2 separate regions of the Homo sapiens genome follow, and region 1 is linked to region 2. The links come from fine-mapping of genetic effects on gene expression. A gene starts in region 2. The other region holds a variant in brackets. All regions are shown on one strand. Distances are between the middles of the regions. Region 1 overlaps LOC105378797 (a long non-coding RNA gene). Region 2 holds the start of NEGR1 (neuronal growth regulator 1).

What was found.
Region 1: its variant is fine-mapped to the expression of NEGR1 in blood mononuclear cells (TOPMed, PIP above 0.99).

The regions. Positions count from the first base shown.
Region 1 is chr1:72,346,033-72,348,951 of GRCh38, reverse strand. The region is part of intron 1 of LOC105378797 (a long non-coding RNA gene); the gene reads right to left. Among named protein-coding and RNA genes, the nearest start is that of NEGR1, 65 kb to the right of the region's middle. The variant G/T (reference allele first, on the strand shown) is at 1,417.
Region 2 is chr1:72,280,933-72,283,851 of GRCh38, reverse strand. NEGR1 (neuronal growth regulator 1) reads left to right here and starts at 1,313. Exons shown (of 7, transcript NM_173808.3): 1 at 1,313-1,533. The coding sequence starts at 1,358. LOC105378797 (a long non-coding RNA gene) reads right to left here and starts at 918. Exons shown (of 6, transcript XR_947506.3): 1 at 447-918. RefSeq lists silencers at 877-966, 1,067-1,126.

The DNA of each region.
Region 1 (2,919 bases), 65 kb before region 2:
GCCTGATTTTGTATTATCACCATTGATTTTGAAAGCTGTGCAAAATATTGTTAGACACAGAAGAGGTTTTTTTGCATTTTTTTGTTTTTCTTTTCTTTTTCTGAATAAGCTATTGGTTATTTTTCTTTTAAAATTCTAATACTTAATTGAGGATCTGAAACAGTTTTATCATATTTTGGTGATAATTGTATTTCACAATAGGTAGAAAAATCAATTGAAGAAAGATTTAATATTAACTAAATTTTGACTATCAGGATAGAATTGGCAATAAGAAGAAAATAAAAGAAGCAGACATTTTCAGGGAAAGGGCCCTTGTAATTTCTGTCCTTTTAAAACCACAGAAATTATCTACTCTAGATTGCTACTGACTAGACTGATTATAGTTTTTCAACTAAGGAGTTAGAATGGAGTAGAAACAGAAAAGGGACAATAGGAATAAGAGGCAAGCACGACTCTGGATTATAACTATTAAAATATTCTCGGCTGGGCGTGGTGGCTCATGCCTGTAATCCCAGCATTTTGGGAGGTCAAGGCGGGCAGATCACGAGGTCAGGAGATCAAGACCACCCTGGCGAACATGGTGAAACACTGTCTCTACTTAAAAAATACAAAAATTAGCTGGATGTGGTGGCACGCGTCTGTAATCCTAGCTACTCAGGAGGCTGAGGCAGGAGAATCGCTTGAATCAGGGAGTCAAAAGTTGCAGTGAGCCAAGATCGCGCCACTGCACTCCAGCTTGGGCAACAAAAGCAAAACTCCATCTCAAAAAACATATATATATATATATATATACACATACACACACACACACACACACACACACACACACACACACACAGAGAGAGAGAGAGAGAGAGAGAGAGATGTAGATATATAGATGTGTGTGTATATATATATATATATATATATATATATATATTCTCCTGATAATTATGTGGTCAAATTGGAACCTTTGTTGCTTTTTTTTTTTTTTTGTATCAAGCATATTCCTCTCCCAAACTTCATAAACCACCACTATGTTACTCAAGCTAGAAACCTAACTTATCATGCTGGATTTCTTCCTTTTCCTTATTTCTGACATCAAGTCATCCTAAAATTCTGTCATTTGTATCTCAAAAATATATCTTGTATCCATTCCCTTATCCCCATTTCCACACACATCACCCTAGATAAGCAAGCATCAAATCTCACCTAGAGAAGTCCTTCACAATTTCTAGTAAGCATACAAATTACCTGGGGATCTTGTTAAAGTGTACATTCTACTTTAGTAGGTCTGAAGAAAGACCAGAGACTCATCTTTTCTTACAGGCTTCCAGATGACATTGATCCTGCCATTCCATGGATCACCCATTTAATGGAAGGTCTAGATTACCTCAAGTGTATCTGTATTGCAGGGTCCAATTTCATCCTCCTGCA[G/T]TCTACTCTCCACCAAGTAGTTAGAGTGATTTTTAGAAAATAAAAAGCAGATATTTTAAATATCTGAAAATAAAGCTATATTTTAACTCGAGAGAACCAAACTATTATCAGTAGGCAAGAAAGGAACTTTCATAGAGCACAGGGTGGTGGTTTTTACTTTCGCAAAGTAGAATTTGCAACAGGATTTTAAATGGGAATTTTACCTCAATTCACAGAGGAATCAAAACTAAGGACAGATTGCAAATATCCCAAACAATCATAGAAATCATCTAGAAATGTCCCTACAAGATTTTACCAATCTTTCCAATATTCTTGTTCATCCCCTAATGAACATATGTAAGAGAAAGCTAGTGGTTAATGGGAATACATAGGAATACAGAACATGTCCTGGCTTTTCTCCTCCTTTCTGCATGGAGTAAGATGGGGAATATTTCATTCCCTGGTGACATGAGGGTGACCCAAGAGAATCACGCATAGAAATTGGGAGTGCCTCTGAGAAGGAAAGACAGTCTTCACCCTCTATTTCCCTTAGGGCAATTGGAGTGTAGAACAGTGAGAAAATTTCTGGGAAGGCTAGCTTGCATTTTCTAGAGTTTGCAATATTAATAATCACAGAAAATTATGCCTGCTTCTCAGCTGGAGAAGTCAGAAGCAAAATATTTCATCCTGCAAGCCTTAATACCACCGTTTGGCAGAAAAAGAATGGCTTATTTTCCCATGAACTCGGAAGACAGCTGAACTTAAGTCATTTTAAAAACACCCCAACTTTCTTCTCAACCTTCCTACCTTCCCCTACCCACAGCCTAGTACCTAGAGGAACCAGAAGCAATTTATTAATGAATGGAGGAGAACAGAAAGACCAAGGTGATGCAAGAGTAGAAAAAACAGAGCATGCTGCCTGTTTTCTATTGCTTCATAGCAAATGGACACAAACTTAACAGCCTACAGTCACACCTATTTATTAGCCTATAGTACTGTTGGTCAAAACTCTGACATGGAATAGCTTAGTTCTTTAACTAGGGTACCACAGGGCTATAATCTGGGTGTCTGATGACTGAGTCCTCATCTGGAAGCTCTAGGAAAAAAATCATTCTCATGGTCAGCTAAATCTTCTTGTTGGCAGAATACAATTTCTTGTGCTTAGATGACCAAGACCTCTGTTTCTGGCTGGCTGTTGACTGGTGGTTGCTCCTAACTCCTGGAGGCCACTCTGAAGCCCTTTTCATATGTACCCCTCCATCTACAAGTCATCAGTGGCACATTGAATCCCCTTAAAGCTTTGAAACTCTGATTTTCTTTTCTGCAACTAGCCAACTAAAACTCTTTTTAGAAAGTGGTTCAAGAGATTAAGTCAAATCCACTGAGATAATCTCTCAGTCTTAAAATCTACCAAGCTGGGACTTCATTTAAATCAACAAAATCTCTTCACAACAGCACCTAGATTAATGTTTTAATGAATGACATGGTCGAGAAACCTTGACAGGCCATCTTAGTATTCTGCCT
Region 2 (2,919 bases):
CATAACTGGACCGCCTGGGCTCTACACAATTAAAACACTTGATTGCAGTCTTTTCCCGACTCTACATCCCAGCATGACCCGCCCCGTCCCTCCCAGCGCGCCTGCGTGCCGCGCGTGCACAGGCCCCCGCGCGCACGACACGCTCTCTATCACACACACACTCCATGTTGACCATAAACAATCCCCTACTCACACACACAACTTAGTGTCAACACCCACAGATAAAAGAGGGGCGTCCTGCAATCCATACGGGCCGACCGCCACAAACACGCAAGCTGCTCTGCCGCAAGGCCTTGCACCTCCTCGTGTCCCCGCAAAAAAGCAGCGCCCCGCCACCGTCCCTACCTATTCCCGAGAAAACGCAGAGAGAACTAGTTGGCTGCTCGCTAACTGCAGCGTAGCCACCCAGGCAAGATTAGAAGAAAATAAACAAAAAAACAACTCACAGTCGCCGGCGTCATGATGGCGCCGACCACAACTTGGAGGACTTCAAACTTACGGTGCCTCGAGAGGTAAAACGCACCGGTGAGGGAAGGCAAAGCGCCCCTCAGCTCTCTTCACCCCAGCCCTGACACGGAGACTTTTCTAGCAAAGAATCCCTCTAGCGCTTACGACAGTAAGGAGAGCCTTCATTCTAAGGTGCCTCTCTTTCCCCCTTAGTTTGCATAATTGTGATACAGTTCCTCCTATTTTTTTTTTCGTTGTCTTGCTTTTCTTTTTTTTTTCTTGCTATCTTTTTTCTTTCTTTTTTTATTATTTTTTTAATCCCCCTCCCTTCTCCATCCCCAGTCCCCTGGCGGGGTTGCTAAGGAAACGGCCGCTTGGCAACGCGCGCGAGCCCGGGAGCCGGCGGCCGGCGCAGCGCTCCGCGCTGCTTCTGCTGCTGCTGTTGCTGTTGCTGCTGCTGCTGCTGGGATTGCAGCCGCCGCCGCCGCCGCTCGCCCTGCCTCCTCCCCCGCCGCCGCGCCTCCTCCCTCACTCGCCGGCGCGCTCGCCTCCTCGCTAGATGGTGTGCGAGCCGCCCGAGAATTAGACACACTCCGGACGCGGCCAAAAGCAACCGAGAGGAGGTGTAGTGTGGTGCCAGGGGGAGGGAGGGGAGGGAGGGAGGGAAAGCGAAGAGGAGGAGGGGAGGCAAAAACACCGAAAAACAAAAAGAGAGAAACAACACCCAACAACTGGGGTGGGGGGAAGAAAGAAAGAAAAGAAACCCACCCACCCACCAAAAAAAAAAAAAAAAAAAAAAAAAAAAAAAAATCCTGTGGCGCGCCGCCTGGTTCCCGGGAAGACTCGCCAGCACCAGGGGGTGGGGGAGTGCGAGCTGAAAGCTGCTGGAGAGTGAGCAGCCCTAGCAGGGATGGACATGATGCTGTTGGTGCAGGGTGCTTGTTGCTCGAACCAGTGGCTGGCGGCGGTGCTCCTCAGCCTGTGCTGCCTGCTACCCTCCTGCCTCCCGGCTGGACAGAGTGTGGACTTCCCCTGGGCGGCCGTGGACAACATGATGGTCAGAAAAGGGGACACGGCGGTGCTTAGGTAGGAAGAACGGCGTGCTTTTCGTACTTGTTTCGGTCTATCTTTCTGTCTCTCTTTGAACCCTCTTTGCCTTCTTTATAACACAAGCAATAATGCTGGTGGTGCTCATCATGGAAAGACCACATCCCAAGAATTCCAGGTGCAGATTCTTCCCGGAGCCCCGGCCCGTTTATGCTGGGGCAGGTAGCAAGCTGGACTCGTGATGCTAAAGCACTTTGCCGGAACGCCAAGTAGCCTGGGGATGAGTGAACTGTCAGGTTTAGAAGGAGGGGCAGGTGCCACTTTGAAACTCAATGCACAAGGTCTCTGTTTTACTGTCATGGGGTACTCCTGGAGAGTCTGACAAGTTTATCAGGTTTGTTTCTATTTTACTCCAGCATAAGCGACTCTTTCAAACTGCTGTTCTCTGCTCCCATTTATTTTCCCTCTCACTTGGACACTTAGGCTCGATTTCTTGCTCTTTATCTTTCTTTCCTTTTACCGCTTTCTGTTTTCTTTCTTTTCTCCTTCCTCATTCTCTTATACCATTTTCCCCACCTCCTTGTAACTCTTTTTCCCTCCAATATCTCTTTTCATACCTTTTCTATTTTCTGTTTTTTCCCTCCTTTTTAAAATTTCTTCTCATATTTTCTCATTTTTATCTCCACGACTCTAATTTCTGTTCCTCACATTTAATCCCCTTTCCTCCTCTCTTTTACCCTTTTTTCTTTTTGTCTATTTTTTTTATTCCTCCTTAATGTCCCTATCCTGTGCCCTGTCTTCCCTCTTTTGACTCCCATTTCTCATCCCTCTCCCCATACCGTTTCCCACCCCTGTGGCACACACAGGCATGGTCACTGTTCCCCTCCAGTACCATTTACTCACCCTCATAAATCTTATTTCCATAAACATACTAACTCACATACTCTCACATCCTCACATGCACTGGCACTTCCATGCTGTAAGAACCACTTCCACATTCAGATTGTCTCTCACTGTTTTTAAAAGGCATACTCTCCTTCTCTGTTCCACATTGTCACTCACACATGTGTACACACTGCCTGTCTCACTCGCTGCTCTCACTCTGTCTCTGCTTCTCTCTTTTTCTCTTTCTGTGTCTTTCTATCCCCTTTTTATTCCTACCTTCCTCCCTCCATCAGTCTTCACTTTTACTTATTTTTCTCATTTTCCCTTCTTTCCTCTGAGCTTGAGCTCTGAGGTGGTTTGTCATTAATAAACATCCATACCCTGATTTTACCCCTAAGCAACACTGCAGAGTGGGAGTCTGGGAATATTTTATTTCCTATGAAAATATAAATGGATGATCAGCAAAGCTTAGATCTAAACAAAGCTAAACGCCCTATTCCTTCATTTCTTTCCCATCACCCTCCCTTCTCCCCCTGCCAC